Linked DNA regions of Homo sapiens: region 1 is linked to region 2. Evidence: fine-mapped expression QTL. Tissue or cell type: whole blood. Region 2 holds a variant in brackets; the other region holds the start of a gene. All regions are shown on one strand. Distances are from middle to middle.

Region 1 (5,149 bases), 130 kb before region 2:
AAAAAAAATTGTTACCTGAAATTCAAATGTAACTGGATGCCCTGTGTTTTATCTGGTAATCCCAGTCTTGGAAGGAAAAGGATCAAATACGAACCCCCTAATTCTCTGAGCCTTCTTGGTCCAGCCTACACAGCTGGAAGCCCAAAGGTGGCGCTCTTGGAGTCTGACCTCCCCTGGCACAGGGTTTGAGATGGTCTTTACCCAGCTCCACTGGCCCAAAAGTAGCCCATAGACCCAAAAGGGGCCTAGCACCTCTCCCCAGGGCATCAGGATGGGGCCCCAGGTCCCCAACTGGTTGTCCTGTGGACCTCAGGGAATGACGACGCAGGAGTCAAGAGCCTCGGTTGCAGCTCCCGCTGTGCCGCCCACGACTGGCTCCGGGGTCAGATGATCTGCTGGTTCAAATCCTGACTCAGCCTCCTACTAGCCAGGCCAGTCTCTAGACCCCTCCCAGCCTCCATGTCCTCACCTGAGAAAACAGGGTCACAATACCTGCCTTGCCAACGTGATGAGGACCAGCGGAGAAGGTGAAAGGGCTTATATTCCAAAGCCCACAAGGTAAGCATCCCTCCCTATGGAGTCCTCTCCCAGGCCACTGGAAAGCACGCATAGTTGATCTGACTATAGTGAGGAGTGCGGGCTGCACCCCCAGGCAGTATAGGCGAGTCCCGGGCACCCACTCTCATCCCTGGTCCAGTGCGGCCCAGCTGCACACACAAATCTCACTTTTGCAGGAACTGTTCGTCTGCCTTCATAATACAGTTTCTTCTCCCCACTTCAAGCCTGAGATCATTTCTTTGAGCCTTCTTGGTCCAGCCCACACAGCTGGAAGCCCAGAGTGGTGCCCTTGGAGCCCGACTTCCCCTGGCACATTTTCTGGCTTATCCAGGAGCCCCGGGGTGTCCTTTCTGCTGTGAAACCTCCTCATGCTCCCCAAGCCCACAGCCTCTCGGGTCCAAGGGGGTCTTCTCGAATACAGCAAATCCCAGCCCAGCCCCTCAGTAGCTCTGGAACACTGCGGCTCTCCTGGTACAATCTTCAAATCTGGTGGAGAGGAAAGCGTGTGGACTTGGGACCCTGAGTTGGAGAATCTGCTCTCTGCCCTGTGACCCTGGCCAAGTCTCTCAGCTCCAAGCCTGCATTTCCGCACCTGTAAGGTGGAGCTAACGGGACACGTGCAGCGCAGACCAGGCCACGGTGAGCACAGGCAGGAGGCCACGGGGTGCAGTGCTCAGGCCTGTGAGGAGTCAGATTCTGGCTCCGAGGAGTTGTTACTGGATGCCCAGAAGCACAGTGGCCTCACCCTTAAAGCAGTGGAGGTGGGGGGTGGTAAAAACAGGGCCGATCTTGCAGGGCCGTTGTGAGGATTAAAAATACAATGTATGATAATGATGCATCAAAGTAGGTTCCTCAGTCCTATCAAATGTGCCACTCTGGTGGGGGACGCTGATGATGGGGGAGGCTGTGAGTGGTGGGGATGGGAACTCCAGACTCTCCACTGCAGCTTTTTTTTTTTTGAAACATAGTTTCACTTTTGTTGCCCAGGCCAGAGCGCAAGGGTGCGATCTCAGCTCACTGCAAACTCCACCTCCCAGGTTCAAGCAATTCTCCTGCCTCAGCCTCCCGAGTAGCTGGGATTACAGGCACCTGCTACCACCCCCGGCTAATTTTGTATTTTTAGTAGAGACGGGGTTTCTCCATGTTGGTCAGGCTGGTCTCGAACTCCTGACCTCAGGTGATCCACCCACCTCAGCCTCCCAAAATGCTGGGATTACAGGTGTGAGCCACCACGCCCGGCCTCTCCACTCGAGGTTTAGAGGGAGCATAGAACTAAAAAAAAAATAAATCCTTTTCTATTTTTTAATGTATGTGATGAGTTTGGCACAACTCCTATTAGCGACAGGTCAGGGTTCATTCCCGTCTTTCACAAAAGCCCTGCCTGTCAGCATCCACCCTTCCCAAGCAGTTTGTGGCAGTTGGACTTTTCACACGAAATCTGTATTTTGAAGGAAATCCATGCTAGGTAATAAACTGGGAGGAGTCAGAATCTTGTTAAGCCACATTCTTCAGCTTTCTGCACAATGATCACCAGCTGGCACCTCCCTGCACCCCCGCTCCGTGCCCCACTTACTGTCCCACGTTCATAAAGACAAACTCTCAGCCATCCCTTACGATGGCAGCGTCATGGTTGATTAGCGTGTACTGCAGCGCCAGGCACGCTTACACTCACACACATCGTCATGGTTGATTAGTGTGTACTGCAGCGCCATGCACGCTTACACTCACACTGTCATTTGCACACTCTTTATCAACAATAATAGCACTTCACAAGTAGCACTGTGGTTCATTATAATCAACCCGAGAGAGCCTGCCCTTGCCCATGAAGGGTGGCTCATACTGAAATTCACTCCCAGAGCCCTACTAGGGGAGAGGCCCACCAGGCCCTTCTAGGCCTCCTTACCTGCAGAGCTCCCAGAGACCCCAACCTCCCAGCAGAAGAAGAAAAGGGGCAGAGCCAGACCCCAGAGACAGCCCATCCTAGCCGGCCACCGCTGCTCCACAGAACTGCTGGCTGTCTCTCGCGGGTACCTTTTCCTGCTTCCTCAAACCAGGGAGGAGGGGCAGCCTCCTGCCCAGGTGTGTGACCAGGTGATCACAAATGTGCAGGCTGAGGGCTGGCAGGTTGAGGCTGTCAGCAAGCTGACCCCCCTGCCTTCCTTGCCCGGTAAACACTCCACTGAAATTTGATTTGAAGATATGGAATCACTAGCTTCTTTTTTTTTTTTTGAGATGGAGTCTTGCTCTGTCACCCAGGCTGGAGTGTACAGTAATGAGATCTCAGCTCAATGAAACCTCTTCCTCCCGGGATCCAACAATTCTCCTGCCTCAGCCTCTGGAGTAGCTGGGATTATAGGCGCGCACCACCACGTCGGGCTAATTTTTGTATTTTTAGTAGAGATGGGGTTTCACCATGTTGGCCAGGCTAGTCTCAAACTCCTGACCTCAGGTGATCTACCTACCTCAGCCTCCCAAAGTGCTGGGAGTACAGGCATGAGCCACTGCACCCAGCCAAGTGCTTTTATTTTCTTAAGCCAATTAATTAGAGCTCTTTTATATATTTTCAGTAGCAAAACACTGTGTACACAACAACACATAAATACACAGATGTATTAGGTATGCTGAAAGAAGTTCATCTTATAGATTCATAAAGAGCTTTTTTCTTACACCTTCAAATTCTTTTTTACTTTTTTTTTTTTTTTTTTTGAGACAGAGTCTCACTCTGTTGCCCAGGCTGGAGTGCAATGGCTTGATCTCGACTCACTGCAAACTCTGCCTCCTGGCTTCAAGTGATTCTCCTGCCTCAGCTTCCTGAGTAGCTGGGATTATAGGCACCTGCCACCACATCTGGCTAATTTTTTTTGTATTTTTAGTAGAGACGGGGTTTCAACATGTTGGCCAAGATGGTTTTGAACTCCTGACCTCAAGAGATCTTTGCGGCTCAGCCTCCCAAATGCTAGGATTACAGACGTGAGCCACCGTGCCCAGCCACACCTTCGAATTCTTGATAACCTGTTTTACTACTCTAAGCGGTTGTCAGCTAAATAGCCTTGAATTTGCATTTTAAGGAAACTGAGGTGAAAATCGAATAGCAAAATTTACATCATAACGTATGGAGAGAAAAAGTCTGGTGTGCTGGAGGGAAATTAAAACAGATTTAATTGCCAATTAAACATAAAATTATAGAAATTATAAAGGCCTTTTAAATATATACACACACACAAAGATCCTATAGCTTTTACTTCAGAAATTTAGCCATGAAAGCTGGGCGCGGTGACTCACGCCTGTAATCCCAGCACCTTGGGAGGCCGAGGCGGGCAGATCACCTGAGGTCAGGAGTTGGAGACCAGCCTGACGAACATGGAGAAACCCCATCTCTACTAAAAATACAAAAAATTAGCCAGGCATGGTGGTGCATGCCTGTAATCCCAGCTACTCGGGAGGCTGAGGCAAGAGAATCACTTGAACCAGGGAAGAGGAGACTGTGGTGACCCAAGATCACGCCATTGCACTCCAGCCTGGGCAACAAGAGTGAAACTCTGCCTCAAAAAAAAAAAAAGAAAAAAAAAAAAGAGAAAGAAAAGAAAAAAAGAAATTTAGCCATGAAATAAATACAAATTCACCAGTTTACAAACAGAAAAACTATCTGATCCAAACAGTGTTTTTTATCTTAATAGAAAAATAACAGCAAATTTAAAGCAGGCAGAGAAGAAACTAGAGAAAAAAGAGGACTCAGGAACTCTACAGTTTGCAGGTCAACCTCAGGGCTCCTTTTTTTTTAATGTAAATGTGCAGAAAGACCATATTACTTCCACTTTACATAAACTCTGGCAAGTAGAGGCGCCATGAACCCTATGGAGTACTCGGCTGGGAGGAGCAAACGCCCTTTCTCTTTGGAGCTGAGAAAACTCAATCTCTCATTTACCTATGACAACAACAGTTCAGTTCCTCATGCAAATACATAGACAACCCAAACTGAGATTCATTTTGGGAGAAAAAGCAATAGAGAAGACCCTTTAGGATGCATCTCTGAACTAGAATTAGGATCCTTAAATCACAGCTTCCTAGAAGAGAAAAAAAAAAAAACAAAAAAACAGCCAAGACCATTCCCTGTAAACTGTGCTCAGCCACCCCTTCTTTGTAGTTCTCGTCTGCCATTACACACGCCAAGGTCAAATCCTCTCACAGTGCAGGGTCATCTCTGGTTCCCCCAAAGCCAAAGAGGTCAGGTCATGCCGTACAGGAAGACAGCAGAGCTTTAGACCTAAGAAGAATCCGCCCATCACTCTTGAAACTCCACAAAGAAAACAGAGCACCCTGGAAGGGGTGAGTGGCCCCTTTGTTCCGGATCCTTTAAAGGGGCTCGAGTCATTGGAAGCCTTCTCTAGATTTTTTTGGTCCCGCAGATGGCAAAGGCAGGAGGAGGTATAGGGAGGAAGAAAAGTAAGTGAAAGAGCATTTGTTGTTTTTGTTTGTTTGTTTTTTAAGACAGAAAGCAAACACAGAAACCAAGCACGTGATTTGTTGTTTTCGTTTAGTTTTTTCCTCTTTTGCAGCTGCAAGGAATTTTAGCCAAATTAGAGAGGCTTTG
Region 2 (5,149 bases):
GACAGGAGGATGGTCCAGGTCACAGTTCCTCTCCTGCTCCCATCCTCTCCCTCCCTCCTTCTCCTTTCTCTCTCGAGGCAGCACATGGCTTCCAAGACATCTCAGGCTGCAGCCTGCTCCTGCCTCTCAGGAGTGGTCCCCAACTCCACTTATGAGTGTGTGGATGTGACAGCCCTGCTACCCAGATGATGACAGCATGTGAGGCCCAAGAGCCTGGGTGTCTCCCTCCAGGGGCCTGGGCCCCAGCCCACTTGCGATGGTTCCATTGCCTCTTGTTTATTGACCCCTCTGACCCAGCATTGAGAAACTTCCCTTAATTCCTCCACACCCAGATGGACTTGGTTAAGAGAATCCCAATCCCAGAAGGGACACTAATGGAAATGACAGAATGTTGAGTCAAGCTGGGACCCCACAGATCTTCTGGCAGCATTTCAACCCTTTCTGTGCCGTGTGCCCCTTTGACAGCTTGGCAAAAAAATATCCATAAATACATAAAATAAAAGACATGAGATCACAAAGGAATTCAATTATCTTGAAAAACAATTCTACCCAACTTCCTATGGACATCCATGGATTTCAGATGATCAACACCTGACAGCCAAACCTCTTGCTGAAAACTTAGGAAACTCTCCAAGGTCACTCAGCGAAGAAGTGAGAGGCCTTGGACAGGAACCCCATCTCCTTATTCCTGCACCTGTGCTTTTGTGTTTTTTACTAATTTAATATTTCAGGAAACTAAGAAAAACAAAACAGAAATCTTGCTGCCTCTGCTTTGAAAACTGAATTTCATCCATGTGGGAAGGTGTGGAGGAAACCCTGCTGGCCCTCAGAGTATTCATAAGAACTGACCTTGCTTTATCCAGGATTGCAACACCAGGCAAATATTATTTCTCGGTAAACATCTGGAAAAGCTTAGGGTCACAGTAAATTGGTGGAGGATTTGGCCAGGGCACTGGTGACTGGTTGAGACGCCCAACTCCTAAACGTGGTGGGCAGCACTGTTGGATTGTGGACTGAGTAGATGGGTCAATTCCTCTGCTTTCAGGAGGTCAGGGTCAGGGAGTCTGGAACACTGGCCTCTGAGCCTGCTACCGACGTCTCGGCCCTCAACTCTTGTTAGGAATTAGTGAGCAGTTGGTGCCCCCTTGTTCTGCTGGGAAGACTGGCAGGTATTTAACCTGAGAGCATTAACCCCTGGCCCATCTCCCAGCTGAGCCCTTTCACTCCTTTCTCTCCCTGCTGGGGTAAGAGAATGTAATGGATAAAAGCATGAGTTTGGTCAGGGTTTAAATTCTCACTTCATCGCTTCAGAAAAGTTGCATGGCCATCTCCCCCTCCCCTCTGTTTGTTTGTTTGTTTTTTGAACTGGAGTCTCACTCTGTCACTCAGGCTGGAGTACAGTGGCACCATCTCGGCTCACTGCAACCTCCGCCTCCCGGGTTCAAGTGATTCTCCTGCCTCAGCCTCCCGAGGAGCTGGGATTACAGGCGCCCGCCACCACCCCCTGCTAATTTTTGTATTTTTAGTAGAGACGGAGTTTCATCATGTTGGCCAGGCTGGTCTGGAACTCCTGACCTCAAGTGATCCACCTGCCTCCGCCTCCCAAAGTGCTGGGATTATAGGCGTGAGCCACTGCACCTGGCCCTCTCTGTGTTTTTATCCCTCTAATGGGAATAGTAGTCATGCCTGCCTTTTAGGGTGTAGCAACAATTAGAGCTAAGGTACAGAAAGCACCTACACAGGACCTGATGTGTTGCATTCTGCATTCTGTGGTTAGGAGTCATTATTCTAATAAGCTCTGGGTTGCACCTTCCACACTGTTGTGGGAAGTCAGGGACCCTGAATGGAGGGACCAGCTGGAGCTGCAGCAGAGGAACATAAATTGTGAAGATTTCATGGACATTTATCAGTTCCCAAATAATACTTTTCTAATTTCTTATGCCTGTCTTTACTTTAATCTCTTAATCCTGTTATCTTCATAAGCTGAGGATATACGTCACCTCAGGACCACTGTGATAATTGTGTTAACTGTACAAATTGATTGTAAAACATGTGTGTTTGAAAAATATGAAATCAGTGCACCTTGAAAAAGAACAGAATAACAGTGATTTTTAGGGAACAAGGGAAGACAACCATAAGGTCTGACTGCCTGCGGGGTTGGGCAAAAAGAGCCACATTTTTC[G/A]TCTTGCAGAGAGCCTATAAATGGACGTGCAAGTAAGAAAGATATCGCTGAATTCTTTTCCTAGCAAGGAATATTAATATTAATACCCTGGGAAAGGAATGCATTCCTGGGGGGAGATCTATAAACAGCCGCTATGGGAATGTCTGTCTTATGCGGTTGAGATAAGGACTGAGATATGCCCTGGTCTCCTGCAGTACCCTCAGGCTTATTAGGGTGGGGAAAAGCTCTGCCTTGGTAAATTTGTGGTCAGACTGGTTCTCTGCTCTTGAACCCTGTTTTCTGTTGTTTAAGATGTTTATCAAGACAATATGTGCACTGCTGAACATAGACCCTTATCTGTGGTTCTGCTTTTGCCCTTTGTCCTGTTCCCTCAGAGGCATGTGATCTTTGTTAGACCCTTATTAGTAGTTCTGCTTTTTGCCTTTTGAAGCATGTGATCTTTGTACCTACTCCCTGCTTTACATCCCCTCCCCTTTTGAAACCCTTAATAAAAAACTTGCTGGTTTGAGGCTCGGGTGGGCATCACGTTCCTACTGATATGTGATGTCACCCCCAGCAGCCCAGCTGTAAAATTCCTCTCTTTGTACTCTTTCTCTTTATTTCTCAGCTGGCTGACACTTATGGAAAATAGAAAGAACCTGCATTGAAATATTGGGGGCGGGTTCCCCCGATACCACACTGTGTCCCTTACAAATAAAGCAGGTGCTAAGGCAGGTGTTGTTAGCCAAGTGGATGTGTTCAGAAAAGACCCTCCACCATCATCAGAGCAGACCTATTTCTCCCACACATCTCAGCAAAGTACATGACTTGACCACAGTCACACAAAGAGAAAATCCTGTCTCAGCTTCTTCCTGATCTACACAGCTCCTTCATCTGGGTGTTTACTCTCTGCCTTCCTCTTGTTTCTACAGACACAGAACCTTCCTTTCTCTCCAAAGCCAGCACCTCCACCTGCACTCTGGATCCCTCCCCTCTCTCCTGCAGATTTTTCCTCTACTAGATCGTCCCTCTGTGCATGCTCTAAGCATCTCCCTTAACCTGCAGGTCTCTGTTCAACTACTATTTCTCTACTTTCCTTCACAGGTAAAGAGCATTGCTGCCTCCTCTTTCCCTCCTCAACCCACTCCAACTGGACTTCTGCCCTCCCTGCTCCCCCTGCCTCTTTTCTTGGCTCCTTCTTCTCTGCTCAGTCTCTGAAGGTTAGAGGGTACCAGGGATCTGTCCTGGGCATCCTTTTTTTCCATTTCTAAATGTCCTCCCTTAGTGTTCCCATCCAGTCTCATGGCTTTGAAGACCATGTATGTTCTGATGACTTCCCAATCTCTATCTCCAGCCCTGATTTTCCCCCAAACTTCACTTGAATATCTAATTGCTTTCTTAACATTTTCACTTAGATGTCTGATGGGGCAACTCAAACATAGCTTATCCATAAAGAACTTGAGTTCTTCTCCCAGACTCACCCTCCAGGCTTCCCATCTGTAGCAGCTGGCAGGTGCGTTCACCTGATTTTTCAACCTTTACATCTAAGAGCCAGTCTCGATTCCCGGCTTTCCTCATCTTCCACCTGCGGCCCATCAGCAAGTCTTGTCCACTTTATCTCCAAAGCACATTCCAAATTTGCCCACTTCTCTCCATCTGTATGCTAATCACTCTAGCCCAAACCACCATCAAACTATTTCCCAAATGACCACAGGGGCTCCTCAGCTGATCCATCTGTAACCATTTTATTCTCCATTCTTGATAGTCAAGCCCAAATAACCATGTCATGCTCTTGCCTAAAACCTTCCCATGACTCCTACTGTACTTGAAATAAAATTCAAGGTCCTCAAAGCAAGATAGATTCTGGTTTCTGTCTACCTCTCCACACTCACTTCCTCCTCACCTCTGCTCCAGCCAAACTGGTCTCTCCATTTCTTAAAAACTTAATGTCTGTTCCCACCTTAGGACCCCTGCACTGGCAGTTCTTCCTGGAACACTCTTCCTTTGGTGTTTGAATGACTGGTTCCCATTCATCACTCACATCTCAGCTGAAATGTCAGTATTCAAAGAGACTCTTCCTGACCACCAGACCGAAGTGGGCACCCTTCACTTCCTATCACGTCATCCTATTCTCTTTTCTAACCTCCCAGAGGAGAGTCACACAGATAGACAGGAAAAATAGGTACTCTCCCTCCTCAACCCACTCTAATTAGGTATTTTTCCTGTCTGTCTGTCTATCTCGCCTCTGGGAGGTAAGTCCCACAAGGGCTGAGACATTGTCTTTCTTCTTTACCACTATATCTGCAGGACTCAGAACAGTGCCCCGCACCCCCGTGTGTGTGTGTGTGTGTGTGTGTGTGTGTGTGTGTGTGTATACATACAGCAACGTAGTGTTGCTATATGTTGTTGAATGCGTGAATGAATGGATAAATAAATTAGTAACAGAGCTAGGACCAGAACCCAGGCCTCCTGCCCCCAGTCCAGTGTTCTTCCCTGCATGCCATATCAAGCTGCTGTTTTCACCAGTTTGATTGCTGTCTTCCTGTTGACCAGATGCTTGGCACCATTAAACTTTCAACTAGTTCCAGAGCCCAGTGAGAAGGGAAATGGCCACCAGGGCACAGGAGGGAGAGGAAAGAGGGCCTCTGAATGAATAATGAGGTCTATAACAAGCCCAGCAAGGACTGAGAATCTAGCATATTCTATTATTCATTCCATCATTCACGGAATATTTAGTAAACACTTACGTGTCAGGCATCATGTAAGGTGCCAGGGATAAAAAGACAATCCTACTTGGGTGGATCTGACCGTCTCCAGAAGGAGATGGAGGCATAAGCATAGTGTAATGAGTGAGGACAGGGTGACATGTGCCATGAAAACACAAAGCAGATGGGAGAACGCTGCGTGGGGTGGGCTAGGAATCCAGAAGATGACCCAGGGAGGGGGACATTTGAGCCGAGTCTTAAAGAGTGAAGGTGCACTACTGAA

Evidence for each region. PIP is the estimated chance that this variant, and not a neighbour inherited with it, causes the effect.
Region 1: it holds the start of MUC20, and the variant in region 2 is fine-mapped to the expression of MUC20 in whole blood (TOPMed, PIP above 0.99).

Annotation. Positions count from the first base shown.
Region 1 is chr3:195,718,396-195,723,544 of GRCh38, reverse strand. MUC20 (mucin 20, cell surface associated) reads right to left here and starts at 2,567. Exons shown (of 4, transcript NM_001282506.2): 1 at 2,462-2,567. The coding sequence starts at 2,537.
Region 2 is chr3:195,587,180-195,592,328 of GRCh38, reverse strand. No RefSeq gene overlaps it. Among named protein-coding and RNA genes, the nearest start is that of APOD, 5.8 kb to the right of the region's middle. The variant G/A (reference allele first, on the strand shown) is at 2,183.